Linked DNA regions of Homo sapiens: region 2 is linked to region 1. Evidence: fine-mapped expression QTL. Tissue or cell type: lung. Region 1 holds a variant in brackets; the other region holds the start of a gene. All regions are shown on one strand. Distances are between the middles of the regions.

Region 1 (8,101 bases):
AGCTGGGATTACAGGCACACGCCACCACACCCGGCTAATTTTTGTATTTTTAGTACAGACGAGGTTTCACCATGTTGGCCAGGCTGGTCTTGAACTCCTGACCTCAAGCATCTGCCTGCCTCGGCCTCACAACGTACTGGGATTACAGGCGTGAGCCACCTTACCCCGCCTTGCCCTGACCCTTCTTATTCCCAGGTTGGCCCAGGATATGACCTAGTCTTACCCCTGCATCACCCAGACTGGTGGTCTCTAGGGGCAGGGCCTCCATGGGGGTGTGACCTGTGCCACTGAGTCCCTGCCTTCTTTTCCCATTGGCCCCCAGAATCGAAAAGGACAGGTGCCGGCGGAGGTGGTCCCAGATCCTATGGACATGTCCCTGGACAAGGCAGAGGCGGCACTGGTGGCCAAGGAGCTGCGGACGCTTCTGGAAGAGGCAGTGCCACTATCTTGCGCCCTCCCCAAGGTCACGCTACCCAACTATGACAACGTCCCAGGCAATCTCATGCTTAGCGCACTGGGCTTGCGCCTGGGAGACCGCGTGCTGCTGGATGGCCAGAAGGTCAGGGGCTGGGATGTGTGTTTGCATGGTGGGTGGGGGTGGGACTCAGCCCCTTAATCCCTTGGAGCTGCGTCCTCGGGCAGAGTGCAGTCCCTGCCCTTTGTCTACTTGCCGCCCTAACTATCCACCCAGTACTTGATTTTATCTCAGTTGTTCCGTGGGTGTCTCCTTTGAGCCTCACCCTGTGCTGAGCTCTCCATCCAGGGTGGGAAACAACCCGTCATCTGACAGTGACGGCCGAGAGTGGTCATGGCTGCCATGGGGAGGGGTGAGCAGAGTGATCTGCGCAGCTCTGTGCACCTGTGGCTCCCCCCGGGTCTTGTGGTCCTCGATCAGGCCCCTCTGCTCTCAGAGACAAGTCTGGCTAGGCAAGTCCAGGCCAGAGTGATTGGGGTGTGATGGGGAATGTACCCAAATTGCAGATGTGGAGGAGCAAGCCAGGGAAAGAAAGGGAGAAAGGAGTCTCAGCTTGGGGGAGCGGGTATCACAGCTGAGAGGGCAGAGAGAATCTTCATTTATCCAGGGACTCCAATTTCACTCATTTCCCGGTGTCCCTTGGGCTCCATACGGGACCCAGTCTGTCCTTAGGGAGGGAGGGCTGTGTCTGCCCCCGCCCTGCTGTCATGGGGCTCCACTTGTAATGAAGGGGAGACAGTCAAGAAAGTAAACCTATGGTTGAGATGATTTCTGGGCTGGGCACGGTAGTTCACACCTCTAATCCCGGCATTTTGGGAGGCCGAGGTGGGAGGATCACTTGAGGTCAGGAGTTGTTAGAGACCAGCCTGGGCAACATAGTGAGATCCTGCCTCTATTGAAAAAAAAAAAAAAAGGTAATTTCTGGTAGCAACAAGGGCTGTCAACACCATTACATGTTTGGATTTAGTAAATTGTCCCTGGCTGAATGCTGGAGTGGTTTTAGCTGGGGTGTTCTGAGAAGGCTTCTCTGAGGAGGTGATGTCCAAACTGAGATAGGAAAGAACTTCCTTTGCAAAGATAAGGAAGCAGAGGATGCAGTAGGTATGGAGACCCAGAGGCAGGAAGGGGCAGTGTTGACGAGGGGAGTTATGGGAAGGGCGGTGAGGTGGAGAGGTCAGCAAGGCTGGGTCACAGCAGACCTGTAGGCTACTGGAAGGAGTTTGAATTTTGTTTTTGTGTTTTTGAGACAGGGTCTTGCTGTCACCCAGGCCAGAGTGCAGTGGCACGATCTTGGCTCACAGCAACCTCCACCTCCCAGATTCAAGCTATTCTCATGTCTTAGCCTCCCACGTAGCTGGGATTACAAGTGTGTGCCAACAAGCCTGGGTTTATTTTTATTATTATGATTATTATTATTATTATTTTGAGATGGAGTCTTGCTCTGTCGCCTAGGCTGGAGTGCGGTGGCGCGATCTCAGCTCACTGCAAGCTCTGCCTCCTGGGTTCATGCCATTCTCCTGCCTCAGCCTCCCGAGTAGCTGGGACTACAGGTGCCCACCACCATGCCTGGCTAATTATTTGTATTTTTAGTAGAGAGAGGGTGTCACTGTGTTAGCCAGGATGGTCTTGATCTCCTGACCTCGTGATCCGCCCGCCTCAGCCTCCCAAAGTGCTGGGATTACAGGCGTGAGCCACCGCGCCTGGCCTTTTATTTTTATTTTTAGTAGCAACGGGTTTCACCATATTGGCCAGGCTGGTCTCAAACTCCTGCCCTCAAGCGATTCGCCCGCCTTGGCTCCCAAAGTGCTGGGATTACAGGCATAAGCCACTGCGCCCGGCCCCATCCAGAAAGCATTCTGCTGTGCACGATCTAATCATATCCATTGCACAATTCAGAAGGAAGGTTGGGTTGACTCTTCCCATTTTACAAGCCAGACTATAAGAGGCTCCAACAGGTGAAAACCTTTATCTGAAGACACGGAATACTAATCACTGCCCCTTAGAGAAGCAGCATAGCACAGCGTCATGAACTCAGGCTCAGGGACTTGCCCAGGTAAATCTCAGCTTTGCAACTTCCCACCTGTGGACCTGGAGCCAGTGATTCTGCCTCTTTGGGTGTCAATGTCTTCATCCGTAAATGGAGATAATAATAGTAACCACCTTAGGGGGCTGGTTGAGGTTTAAATTAATTAAAATGCGTAAGGCCATTAGAACAGAGTCCAGCGCATACTAAATGCTCTTTGTGTGTGCCAGGCACTGTTCTAGTCCCTCCACCAACACTCTTAAGATCAGCACTAATTGTCGGGGCGCGGTGCCTCACGCCTGTAATCCCAGCACTTTGGGAGGCAGAGGTGGGCGGATCACGAGGTCAGGAGATCGAGACCATCCTGGCTAACCCGGTGAAACCTCGTCTCTACAAAAAAAATACAAAAAATTAGCCAGGCATGGTGGCAGGTGCCTGTAGTCCCAGCTACTCAGGAGGCTGAGGCAGGAGAATGGCATGAACCCAGGAGGCGGAGCTTGCAGTGAGCCAAGATCATGCCACTGCACTCCAGCCTGGGCCAAAGTGTGAGACTCCGTCTCCAAAAAAAAATAAATAAATAAAAATAAAAAAAGATCAGCACTAATTAATTAGCCTATTATATGGACCAGGAACTGAGGCATGGAGAGGTGAATGAGCCTCCCATAATGATAATAACCACACTCACTAAAGTCTCACTGCAGCTAAGCAAGTTTACATGTGTTAAAAATGTTTCCGCCAAATGTGGTGGCTCATGCCTGTAATCCCAGCACTTTGGGAGGCTGAGGCAGAAGGATCGCTTGAGCCCAGGAATTCGAGACCAGCCTGGGCAACATAGTGAGACCTCATCTCTACTAAAAATGAAAAAATTAACCAGGCATGGTGGCACACACCTATAGTCCTAGCTACTTGGGAGGCTGAAGTGAGAGGATCGCTTGAGCCCAGGAGTTCAAGACCAGCCTGGGCAATCAACATGGTGAGACCTCATCTCTACTAATAATGAAAAAATTAATCAGGCATGGTGGCGCACACCTGTAGTCCTAGCTACTTGGGAGGCTGAAGTGAGAGGATCACTTGTGCCCAGGAGTTTGAGGCTGCACTGTGCCAGGGTCGTGCCACTGCACCCCTGGCATGGGCAACAAAGTGAGACCCTGTCTAAAAAAAAAAAAAGTTTCCGCCAGATGATCACTCCATGAGGTGGCTTACTATCTCTATTTTACAGATGAAACTGAGGCTCAATAAGTCCCCTGACCAAAGTTACAGCATGATAATAGCTAACAGGCTGAGCACAGTGGCTTCACACCTGTAATCCCAGCACTTTGGGAGGCCAAGATGGGGAGGATCGCTTGAGGCCAGGAGTTTGAAACTAACCTGGGCAACATAGGGATACTCCATTTCTATTTTTAACAAAAGTTTGTTGTTGTTGTTGTTGTTTTAATTAGCCAGGCTTTGGTGGCGTTCACCTGTAGTCCCAGCTACTCGGGAGACTGAGGAGGGAAGATTGCTTGAACCCAGGAGTTCAAGGTTACACTGAGCTATGATTGCACCACTGCACTCCAGCCTGGGCCACAGAGTGAGACCCTGTCTCTAAAATAGAAAAAAAATTTCAATAACGAATACTTGCTGATCCTTTACTTAATACCAAGCCCTGTTCTGAGGGCTTTAATTTCTCTATAACAGCCCTGTCCAACAGAGCTTTCTGTAATGGTGGAAATATTCTGTCTGTGCTGTCCAGTAAAGTAGCTACAAGCTACATGTGACAATTGAGCACTTGAAATATGGCTAGTGTGACTGGGGAAATGCATTTTTAATTTAGTTTAAATGTATTGATTTGTATTTTTATTTATTTATATTTTTTCTTGAGACAGAGTCTTGCTCTGTTGCTCAGGCTGGAGTGCAGTGGTGCTATCTGGGCTCACTGCAACCCTCCTGGGTTCAAGCAATTCTCCTGCCTCAGCCTCCCGAGTAGCTGGGATTACAGGCGTGCACCATCATGCCTGGTTAATTTTTGTATTTTTAGTAGAGATGGGGGTTTCACCATGTTGGCCAGGCTGGTCTTGAACTCCTGACCTCAGGTGATCCTCCCACCTCGGCCTCCCAGAGTGCTAGGATTATAGGTGTGAGCCACCGCGCCCGGACTAAATTTATTTATTTTTAAATTTAAAAATCATCTGAGTCTTCTTTCTAAGGTATGTATTTATTTATTTTTGAGACAGGGTCTTGCTTGTTGCCCAGGCTGGAGTGCAGTGGCACCATCATAGCTCACTGCACCCTTGAACTCCTGGGCTCAAGCGATCCTCCCACCTCAGCCTCCCAAGTAACTGGGACAACAGGCTTGAGCTACTGCACCTGGTTACCTTTTTTCTTTCTTTTATAGAGAATAGGGTCTTGCTGTCTTTGTTTTTTGGAACAGATTAAGATTAGAGGGTCTCGCCATTTTCACCCAGGCTGGTCTGAAACTCCTGGCCTCAAGTGATCCTCCAGCCTTGGCATCCCAAAG[T/C]GTTGGGATTATAGGCATGAGCCACCACACCCGGCCTTAGTTTAAATTTAAATTGTTGGCCAGGCATGGTGGCTCATGCCTGTGATCCCAGCACTTTGGGAGGCCGAGGCGGGTGGATCACCTGAGGTCAGGAATTCGAGACCAGCCTGGCCAACATGGCGAAGCCCCGTCTCTACTAAAAATACAAAAATTAGCCAGGCGTGGTGGCATGCACCTGTAGTCCCAGCTACTTGGGAGGCTGAGATGGGAGAATTGCTTGAACCCAGGAAGTGGAATTTGCAGTGAGCCGAGATCGTGCCACTGCACTCGAGCCTGGCAACAGAGTGAGACGCTGTCTCGAAAAAAAAAAAAATAAATAAAATAAATAAATAAATAAATTTACATTGTCCTATGTGGCTAGTCACTATTCACTATATGAGACAGGGCAACTCTTTAACAATCCTATAAGGTGAGTATAATTTCTGTTCCCATTTCACAGCAAAGGAAGTTGAGGCACACAGAGGTTAAGTCATGTAGCCAGCAAATGGTGATGTGTGACCTGGGGTTTGGGCCCAGGGCGGCCTCATGCAACCCACCTTGCTGCCCGTGTGTGGGCACTCCACGTTGGCCTCCCAGCATTCCTTCCTTAGCCATCGCCTCCCTTCTCTCCCCAGACGGGCACACTGCGGTTCTGTGGGACCACGGAGTTTGCCAGCGGCCAGTGGGTGGGCGTGGAGCTGGACGAACCTGAGGGCAAGAACGATGGCAGCGTTGGGGGCGTTCGGTACTTCATCTGCCCTCCCAAGCAGGGTTAGTCCGACCTCGGGCCCAAGAGGGGTGTGGCTGGGTGTCCACTCGGCAGTTCTGATGCTGCTGACTGGGAAATAGGGGATGGAGGATGGGGGCCGAGGGCAGAGGCTTGGACAACACCAGGCTCGGATTCTGTACCCCTAGGTCTCTTTGCCTCCGTGTCCAAGATCTCCAAGGCAGTGGACGCACCCCCCTCCTCTGTCACCTCCACACCCCGGACCCCCCGGATGGACTTCTCCCGTGTCACCGGCAAAGGCCGCAGGGAACACAAAGGTCAGAGAGGGGATCCCTGTGGTGGGAAGAGCCAGTTTGGGGATGTTGTGTGGGTAGCTCAGCTTCTGTGACTCAGTTTCTCCTCAGGCCCAAACTCCAGTTTTGGAAGACAAGCTCTGAGTTCCTGACTTCTGTGACTCAGTTTCCCCTTTGGCTCAGTACTGGCACCCCCTAGTTCTTAGAAGGACCTGTGGGTTCCCTGCCCTCTGTGACTTAGTTTCCTCTCAGACCCAAAGGTCTCCCCCAGTTTTAGGGAAGAATCCTTGGAGATCCTGTCTTTTGTCATTTGATCTACTTTTTTTTTTTTTTTTTTTTGAGTCAAGAGTCTCGCCTTGTTGCCCAGGCTGGAGCGTGGTGGCACGATCTTGGCTCACCGCAACCTCCGCCTCCCGGGTTCAAGCAATTCTCGTGCCTCAGCCTCCCGAGTAGCTGGGATTACAGGTGCCCACCACCACATCTGGCTAATGTTTGTATTTTTTTCTGTAGAGACAGGGTTTTGCCATGTTGGCCAGGCTGGTCTCAAACTCCTGACCTCAAGTGATCTGCCCGCCTCGGCCTCTCAAAATGTTGGGATTACAGGCCTGCGCCACTGCACATGGCCTGATTTACTCTCGGACCCAATTTTCCCTTCATTTTAAAAGGACAGTTTCTGGGTTCCTGACTTCTGACTCAGCTTTTCCTTATCCAACATATCCTCAGCTTTGAGAAAGGATTTTGGGGTTCTTCAGGTTCTCTGACTCAGTTTCCCTTCAGGCCTAAAGCCCCTTCCTAATTCTCTGGCATCTGGGATTCAGTTTCACTTCAAACGAAGAACAGGGTTTTCTACCTTGGGGTTTTCCAGGTGGCACGAGGTTCCCAAAGCTGGCCTCAGCCCCACTACCCACCTCCTACACCTTCTACCCTTAGGCAAGAAGAAGACCCCATCATCCCCATCTCTGGGCAGCTTGCAGCAGCGTGACGGGGCCAAGGCTGAGGTTGGAGACCAGGTCCTTGTCGCGGGCCAGAAGCAGGGGATCGTGCGCTTCTACGGGAAGACAGACTTTGCCCCAGGTGAGGATGGGGACTCTGGGCCGGGAGGCAGGCAGGGCCTTGAGAAATCCTGACACCCTCGTGCTGCAGGTTACTGGTATGGCATTGAGCTGGACCAGCCCACAGGCAAGCATGATGGCTCTGTCTTCGGTGTCCGGTACTTCACTTGCCCCCCGAGGCATGGGGTCTTCGCACCAGCATCCCGTATTCAGAGGTGAGCCCAAACTTCCAGCCCAAACCCAGGGCACCACCTGGAGCCCTGATCCCCCCTCAGATGGCCTCCTCCTCCCAGACCAGCAGGACAGTGTGGACACCCCCGAGCCCCCAGCCCTTTCCTCATAGATCCCTGGGGCCCAGCTCTCAGTCAGACCCTGGCCTTTTGTGGCTCTGACTTCTCCCCCTCCCCGTGTCTCCTCAGGATTGGCGGATCCACTGATTCCCCCGGGGACAGCGTTGGAGCCAAAAAAGTGCATCAAGTGACAAGTGAGTTAGGGGATGATATGTTGGGAGGAGTGTACGTTTGGGGATGGGAGGAAGGGTCATGGGTTCTCAGGTATATACTGGTGACAGTCTCTGGTATTTAATTGGGGACACAGGGTCCAGGAAAATGATGAGACAAGGTCCACAAAAAGATAGGTGCTAGAGGATATGAGGAAATTAGCAACAAGGCTCTTCGGGGACATGAGGTTGAGCAGATACTGGGGACAGGGATAGTCACTGGGGGACATGGTGGGAATTATGGACAAGAGGCCCAGATGGGTATTGGGAATGTAGGATCCAGGTGGGGACTGGAGACATGGGGAGGTATTAATGAGAAGGGGTCTGGATGGGTATTGAGGACACAGGTGGTCTGTCATCCCCTCACTTGACATCCTGCCCTCCTCTTCAGTGACGCAGCCCAAACGCACCTTCACCACAGTCCGGACCCCAAAGGACATTGCATCAGAGAACTCCATTTCCAGGTGTGTGGCCAACCCCTGTCCCCTCTCCTATGTGACATTCAGGGAGAGGGATC
Region 2 (8,101 bases), 35 kb before region 1:
CAAATAAACAAGCTCCCTCGGTTCTCTCTGGTCTCCTCCTCCTCCCCCTCCTCCAGGTGTTTACGCTGAGAATTCTAGGGCACTTTAACATTGCTATGTTCTTAAATAGAAACCAACACTTCCTCTGAGGTAATGTCTGTCAGGCCCTAGGCTAATTAAGACCTTAAGCTGGCTATAATCCCAGCACTTTGGGAGTATGGGGCAGGAGGGATCACTTGAGCTCAGGAGTTTTAGACCAGCCTGGGCGACAGAGTGAGATCTCATCTCCACTAAAAAAAATTAGCTGGCTGTGGTGGCATGTGCCTGTAGTCCCAGCTACATGGGAGGTGAAGATGGGAGGATCGCTTGAGCACAGGAGGTTGGGGCTGTAGTGAGCTGTTATTCACACTATTGCATTCTAGCCTGGGCAACACAGCCAGACTCTGTCTCAAAAAAGCAAAACAAAACAAAAAGAGAGAAAGAGGGATGTAATTGTTTTAAATCCTCACAACTGCCAGGTCAGGTCACGACTATTTAGGCCCATTTATAGATAAGGAAACAAACCCAGAGAGGGGACGTCCTTAGCACAGTGCCAGGCTACATGAGTATTTATGGAATGAACAGCTGTAGCATCTTCTTCAGTCTTCTCAACTATGCAAGCAGAGGGGGTCACCAGCTCTGTTTTACAGAGGCAGAGGAAGAGGCTCAGAGAGCAGCATACATGGCAGAGCTGGGACACAAATCCAGGTTACCTGACACCACAGCGTGGACTTTAATCACCTGTCTTTCCCAGAATCGCTGTCACCTCCCCCCTGTAGTCATAATAAAGGCTTTCATTGCACTCACTACATGCCAGGAACTGTTCTAGACAGAGAGGGGGCTATGGAATCCTCTCCACAGCTCTCAGAGGCAGGCCCCATTCTCCACATTCTACAGGTGAAAAATATGAGGCTCAGAGCGATTTACGGATGGCTTCAGGTTCCAAGCTCCAAATTCCCTAGCAATGATTAGACGTCGAGGCCCTTATCTGCTTACCCTGCCAGGTAGGCCACATGGCCTGTGCCGGGGTCACAGGTTAGGCCACTGCTGTTCTGGGCTGTGATGCCAAGCACCTTCTCGAGTGACACCTGCAAAGAAAAAGCCCAAGTCAGAGGCACCCACCCTAGCCAGCACCACATGGTGCAGCCGCCTTGGCCACCCATTCAGGTCCTGCTACATTCAACACCCACACTGAGCTTCTGTGGCCACGCCATCCACCAGCAGCTAACACTTGTTCTCTCAACATTCCTTTGACAAATACAACGCTAGGTGAAAAGCACAGAGTGGTGAGGAAGAGACAAATCCCTGCCCTCGGGGGGCTCACATTCTACTGGTGATGGGTATGTAGAACATAGAAAAGGAGCAGAACAAATATGTGAAATAGATGCCAAGTAATGATGGGTGCAAGAGAGAAGAAAGCAGATAAGGAGGTTAGGAGCACAGGGGAAGGGGGCGAATGCCGCGGTGAGAAGGTGACCTGTGAATAAGTTTCTAAGTACTTTTTTTTGTTTGTTTTTGAGATGGAGTCTTGCTCTGTCACCCAGGCTGGAGTCAGTGGTGAGATCTTGGCTCATTGCAACCTCCGCCTTCCAGGTTCAAGCAATTCTCCTGCCTCAGCCTCCTGAGTAGCTAGGATTACAGGCACATGCCACCATGTCCGGCTAATTTTTGTATTTTTAGTAGAGATGGGGTTTCACCATGTTGGCCAGGCTGGCCTCGAACTCCTGACCTCAGGTGATACACCCGCCTCGGCCTCCCAAAGTGCTAGGATTACAGGCATGAGCCACTGTGCCCGGCCTCTTAGTACTTTTATATGTATAAAAGACTTGAATCCTCCCAACAAGCCACGAAGAAGGCTCTATTATCACCCCTGTTTTACAGGTAAGAAGTCTGAGGCCCAAGATCCTACATCTGCAAGTGGCAATGTTGATATACAAACCCAGGCAGTCTGGCTCCAAAGCTAGCACTTTGGGCTGTACAGGAGAGACACAGTAGTGACCAAAGGTAGACAGTTTCCCCACATCAGATTCACAGTCCAGAAATTTGAGCGGTTTCAACGAGTAAAAAACCACATGAACAGTAATATTTAAAATTTAAACAAGGCTGGGTGTGGTGGCTCAGTCAAGAGTTTGAGACCATCCTGGCCAAGATGGCGAAACCCTGTCTCTACTAAAAATACAAAAAAATTAGTCAGGTGTGGTGGCCCATGCCTATAATCCCAGGCACTCAGGAGGCTGAGGCAGTAAAATCGCTTGAACCCAGGAGGCGGAGGTTGCAGTGAGCTGAGATGGCACCATTGCACTCCATCCTGGGCGACAGAGTGAGACTCTGTCTCAAAAAAAAAAAGGAACAAAACAGTTGAGGAAACAGAGGCCAAGAGGGGTTACCCATCCAGGAAGGGGTAGTGCCAGGATTCCAACACAAACAACCAAGCCATGGCACTCATGTTGTCTTATCTGTCGATCAGCATTACTGGGCCCTGGTATGAATGGTCACTTTTAGACTAGGTCTTTGCAAGACAGATCAACTCTGTGCTGCCAAACAAAAAAAATAAATAAATATTACCCCAAATACACAGTCATAATATCAGTATTAGCTAACATGAATAGAGTACTTGCCATATGCCAGTGTTGTTCTAAGTGCCTAGGATATGTAACCTCATTGAATCCTCACAAATACCCTATGAGAGATTTCTACATCATTATTCTCATTTTACAGATAAGAAAACTGAGGCACAGATAAGTTCATAACTTGGCGGGGCACAGTAGCTCACGCCTGTAATCCTAGCACTTTGGGAGGCCGAGGCAGGCAGATCGCTTGAGCTCAGTAATTCAAGACCAGCCTGGCCAACACGGCGAGACCCTGTCTCTACCAGAAAACACAAAAAAATTAGTCAGGTATGGTGGCATGCGCCTGCAGTCCCAGCTACTCAGGAGGCTTGAGGCAGGAAGATCACCTGAGCCCAGGGAGGCTGAGACTGCAGTGAGCCGAGATCAACCCAGTGCACTACAGCCTGGATGACAGAGTAAGACCCCATCTCAAAAAAAAAAAAAAAGAAAAGAAAAAGCGAAGTTCATAACCTGCCAGGAAGAACAGGACTAAAGTTTAAGCTCAGGCTGCCTGGGTCCAACCATACCATCAGCAGCAGTCTGTGCTCTTAGCCACTTTGCTATAACGCCTCTCTGAATTTGCTATTGTTATATGTAGTTTAATAGCTCAAAGGGCACTTTCAGGAACATATAAGATAAAGGCTATGAAGTATAGGGTGCTGGGTGACAGATGAAGGTGGCTGTTTGCTTTAGAATGGGGTTCGAGAAGGCCTTTCAAGATAGCGACATTCAGGCTGAGACTTGAAGGATGGGAAGGAGCCAGACAGGCAGATTGCAGCAAAAAGCCCAGGCTGAGGACTCACCAATCACAAAGGCCAGGAGGCAGAAAAGAATATGGAGCCTCAGGAAAACCAAAAGCAGGCCAGTGTGACTGAACCTTGGTGACAGAGAGCACATGGGAGGTACAGCCAGAGCCCTGTAGCCAGGAGTGGGCGGTATAATCACAGTGCAGGAGAAAGTCATGGGGCAGGAACAAGCTCCACCAGCAGCTACCAGGTATCCTCCCTTTATCTGGACTCCGTGCCAAGAAGATCACAATTAAAATTTCATTTCCCTCCAATGCAATAGTATAATTTATTTATTTATTTATTTTGAGACAGAGTCTCACTCTGTCGCCCAGGCTGGAGTGCAGTGGCATGACCTCAGCTCACTGCAACCTCCGCCTCCCAGGTTCAAGCGATTTCTCCCGCCTCAGCCTCCTGAGTAGCTGGGATTACAGGCGCGCGCTAGCATGCCGGGCTAATTTTTCTACTTTTTGTAGAGACGGGTTTCACCATGTTGGCCAGGCTGGTCTTGAACTGATCTCAGGTGAACAGCCCACCTTGGCCTCCCAAAGTGCTGGGATTACAGACGTGAGCTACCGCGCCCTACCAGTAGTATGGTTCTTATCATCTCCATTTTATAAAAACAGATTTTGTGCCTACACAGCTGGAAAACAATTTTTTTAATTGCCGCTGTGCTAATGGAATTCCTTCTACCTACTGTGAAATCATTTCTTTCCATTTTTCTGTCTCAGGATTTAGGGAACTGTTCTGTACGCCCTCCTCCCCAGGCAGCACTGCAGAGATTTTATAAATAACTTCTCACGTCTTTCTCATAGTTTTGAGTGACAATATGGATTAAGAATCCCACCTTGGTGAGGAAAAAGGATAGAGATCGCAGAAGGTGAGAGAAGGCGGGGTAGAAGCGAGGAAGAGTTGGGGCAGGTAACACTCTGGACCGAACCCTCGAAGGGACCTTAATGACTCAGCGGGGGCCAGGGCAGTGAGGCTGCAGTGAGCTATGATCGTGACGTCTAAAGGCGATAGAACGGGGGTTAAAATATAGCAGGACTAGGCTGTGATTTACAGAAGCAAAATGCATTTCCACGGGTGGGAACCAGCGAGGAACCCCCGAATTGCTCCAACGCTGAGGGTGGAGCCGGGAAAGCAGCGAGGAGAAAGTGGGAGGGGCCGTGGCTAAAGGGGCGGGGGTTAGGGGACGAGGCATGGCAGGGAACAACCTGAGGGGACTGGCCGGGGGCTGATGTCGGGGCCACAGTTCTCAGGACGGGACTAGGGGAAACCTAGGAAGCCTGGAACTGGGGTAGACATGGCGAGCAGCTTCTCACCCGGTTCTGCACCGTCTCCTCGGAGGCCGTCGAGAGTCGCGTCCGCCGCCGTAGGCAGATTGGTGGGGCGGGGGGCGGGGAGGACTGGCCCCTCCGCGCCGGAACTCCCGCCATGACAGAGGGCAGCTTCTCCCCTGCATCGTTCCGCGCATAGCCTCCGGACCCTACGGCCGCCATCGTCACGCCGGAGGCGGGCGACCGTTACATCCCCTAACCGCCGCTGCCGCCACCGCCACGACCCACTGGAACAGCGAACAGCCGCGGGAAAGCCGGCGCCACCGCCTATTGGACGCGACGGGCCCGGCCTAGCCAATCGCAGGGATGCCGGGCGGCGCTTAGAACCAATGGGGGCGAAGAGGCGGAGCGAGTGCCTGGCGGGGCGGGGCCACAGCCAGTGTACTGGATGCCTGATTAAGCGTCATGGGGTCTTTCATCCAGACTGCGTTTTCATTATTCGCTGAAACATACAGGTTTTAATTTTTACGAGGCTAAGGCCACGGCCGCCTCACCTCGGTTTTTGCCGCCACCTAGAGGAACTATGTGCGCCCCAACGGTTGCCCGGATGTAGGCGTAGGGTGGAGCCGTAAGAGATTGACTAGCCAGTTGATTTGGTTGGCGCAGGCTCAGAAACGCCGTGACGCCGCCCTTCCCCCCAACACGTGATGAAAGTCGGGGTGACGAAGGGCCGGCTTTGCGCAGGTGCACAGTACTCGCTATGGCCCATTCGTCACGTGACGAGGGCGGGACTGTGGCACTGTGGAGGGGCGCCTAGTAGGCAGGCGCTCTCAGCTCTCTCCCCGGTACGTGACGAGACTCCACGGACGTCACGTGAGGCAGGCGGCGAGCGCGGGTGGGGCGGGGTTAGGCGGCGCTCCGCGAGAACCAAAGTGCAGCCGCTGACCCGGCAAAACTCAGCGGGGGCTGGATAGCCATGCCCAAGTACTGCAGGGCGCCGAACTGCTCCAACACTGCGGGCCGCCTGGGTGCAGACAACCGCCCTGTGAGCTTCTACAAGTGAGCGCAGCGCGGGGCGGGGCTTGAGGGAGGCGGGACCCTGAGAGGGGTGGGGCCCGAGCATTAGTGCTGCTGTGCGGGGCTTCTGGTCTTGCTTGAGGGTGTTAGGAAGTGGGGTTAAACCATGAGGAGATGGCCTTCCTGGCAGTGTCCATTGCACATACAAAGGTGCAGGCGTGGGAAACAGGAGTAGACGATTGACTACAGATAGCGAGCGAAGCGAGCCGAAGAGTGAAAGGGATGTAAGAAGTGAAGTCGGTGCAGGCTGTTAGAGAGCCTGCAGATGCCCACTTGCCCTCCCCACGCATTTGAGCCATCTGAAACTCAGAGCATCCGAAACTGAGCTTGCGATCGTGTCTCCCCAAAACCTTCCAGTCTGTCTTATCTTAGTAGCGTGCTTCATTCTTCTTGTTGCTTAGGTTTAAAAAATGTCATCCTTACCTCTTTCGTCATACTTGGGAAAGTCAGAATTAGCTTCGACTGTAAAAGATCTGTCTCCTTATTTATCTGGCTGACATAAGCCAGTTGGTGGAAGAATTACTAGGAAAAAACATTTCTTTGCTTTTTTTTTTTTTTTTTTTTGAGACAAGATCGCTTTGTCGCCCAGGCTGGAATGCAGTGGAACGATCACAGCTCACTGCAACCTCGACCTCCCGGGCTCAAGTGATCCTCCCACCTCACCCTACCAAGTAGCTGGGACCAGAGGCACGCGCCACCATGCCTGGATAATTTAAATTTTTTTTTTTTTTTTTTTTTTTTTTTTTTTTTGCCAGGCTTGGTGGCTCACGCCTGTAATCCCAGCACTTTGGGAGGCCGAGGCGGGCAGATCACCTGAGGTCAGGAGTTCGAGACCAGCCTGGCCAACATGGTGAAACCCCGTGTCTACTAAAAATACAAAAATTAGATGGGCGTGGTGGCTCATGCGTGTAATTCCAGCTACTCCGTGGGCTGAGGCAGGAGAATCGCATGAATCCAGAAGGCAGAGGTTGCAGTGAGCCAAGATGAGGCCACTGCAATCCAGCGTGGGCAACAAGAGTGAGACTCCGTCTCAAAAAAAAAAATTTTGTTTTTAAAGAGAGAGATGGGATCACCCTATGTTGTCCAGTCTAGTCTCAAACTCCTGGGCACAAGCAGTCCTCCTGCCTCGGCCTCCCAAAGTGCTTGGATTACAGGCGTGAGCCACTGCACCCAGCCAGGAAAAAATATTTCTCTTGGACATACTGCAGATGTAAAGTGGCAGAATTCCCATCCTTTGAGTGTCTACTGCTTTCTTAGTAGGAAACTTTGGTTGTCTAAAGTCAGAGATGATCACAAACTTTGCTGTTTGAAATCACATCAAGTAAGAATGAAACATCTCACTTTTGCTTGGAGGAGCTAAGTCACTTTGACACAGAAAAGCAGTCCCTATTTACAATCCAGGTTTGGAGCTTCAGATAAGGACACAATATTCTACATCTATGTAAACTTTATTGCATCTGAGAAGACAAACCCTGGGCCCACTTCACCATCCGGACCTGATATTGATCCCTTTACACACAGTTCTGATTTGCTTTGAGGCAATCTGAACACTGCTTAGTTTACATTTCACCTAAAAAATAACTCTGTTTGTTGAGACTCCCTCACAAAACAAAGGCCCATAGGGCCTATGGCAGTGGTCCCCAACCCTTATGGCACCAGGGACTGGTTTTGTGGAAGACAGTTTTTCCACGGATGGGATAGGGTTGGGGGAATGGTTTTGGGATGAAACGCTTCAGATCATCAGGCATTAGATTCTCATAAAAAGCGGGCAACTGGCCAGGCACAGTGGCTCATGCCTGTAATCCCAGCACTTTGGGAGGCCAAGGCGGGCAGATCACGAGGTCAGGAGATCGAGACCATCCTGGCCAACATGGCGAAACCTTGTCTCTACTAAAAATACAAAAATTAGCTAGGTGTGGTGGCACATGCCTGTAATCCCAGCTACTTGGGAGGCTGAGGCAGGAGGATCACTTGAACCCAGGAGGCAGAGGTTGCAGTGAGCCGAGATTGCGCCACTGCACTCCAGCCTGGCGACAGAGTGAGACTTCATCTAAAAAAAAAACCAAAAAACCCAAAAAACAAACAAACAAAAAAAAAATGGAGGGCAACCTAGATCTCTCACATGCACAGTTCAGAATAGGATTCACACTCTTGTGAGAATCTAATGCTGCTGCTGCTCTGACAGGAGGCGGAACTCAGGTGGTAATGCGAGCAGTGGGGAGTGGCTGTAAATACAGATGAAGCTTCTCTCACTCGCTCACCTGCCTGCCACTCACCTCCTGCTGTGTGGCCCTATTCCTAACAGGCCATAGACTGGTACCCGTCTGTAGCC

Evidence for each region. PIP is the estimated chance that this variant, and not a neighbour inherited with it, causes the effect.
Region 2: it holds the start of WDR62, and the variant in region 1 is fine-mapped to the expression of WDR62 in lung (TOPMed, PIP 0.97).

The regions. Positions count from the first base shown.
Region 1 is chr19:36,016,854-36,024,954 of GRCh38, reverse strand. CLIP3 (CAP-Gly domain containing linker protein 3) reads left to right here. Exons shown (of 14, transcript NM_015526.3): 7 at 323-559; 8 at 5,649-5,784; 9 at 5,929-6,057; 10 at 6,964-7,107; 11 at 7,177-7,300; 12 at 7,505-7,569; 13 at 7,976-8,048. It overlaps LOC101927572 (a long non-coding RNA gene), which reads right to left. Exons shown (of 4, transcript NR_170988.1): 2 at 7,995-8,101; 3 at 5,571-5,721. Among named protein-coding and RNA genes, the nearest start is that of ALKBH6, 6.7 kb to the right of the region's middle. The variant T/C (reference allele first, on the strand shown) is at 4,996.
Region 2 is chr19:36,051,785-36,059,885 of GRCh38, reverse strand. WDR62 (WD repeat domain 62) reads right to left here and starts at 4,989. Exons shown (of 32, transcript NM_001083961.2): 1 at 4,738-4,989; 2 at 1,015-1,106. The coding sequence starts at 4,914. It overlaps THAP8 (THAP domain containing 8), which reads left to right and starts at 5,601. Exons shown (of 4, transcript NM_152658.3): 1 at 5,601-5,751. The coding sequence starts at 5,669.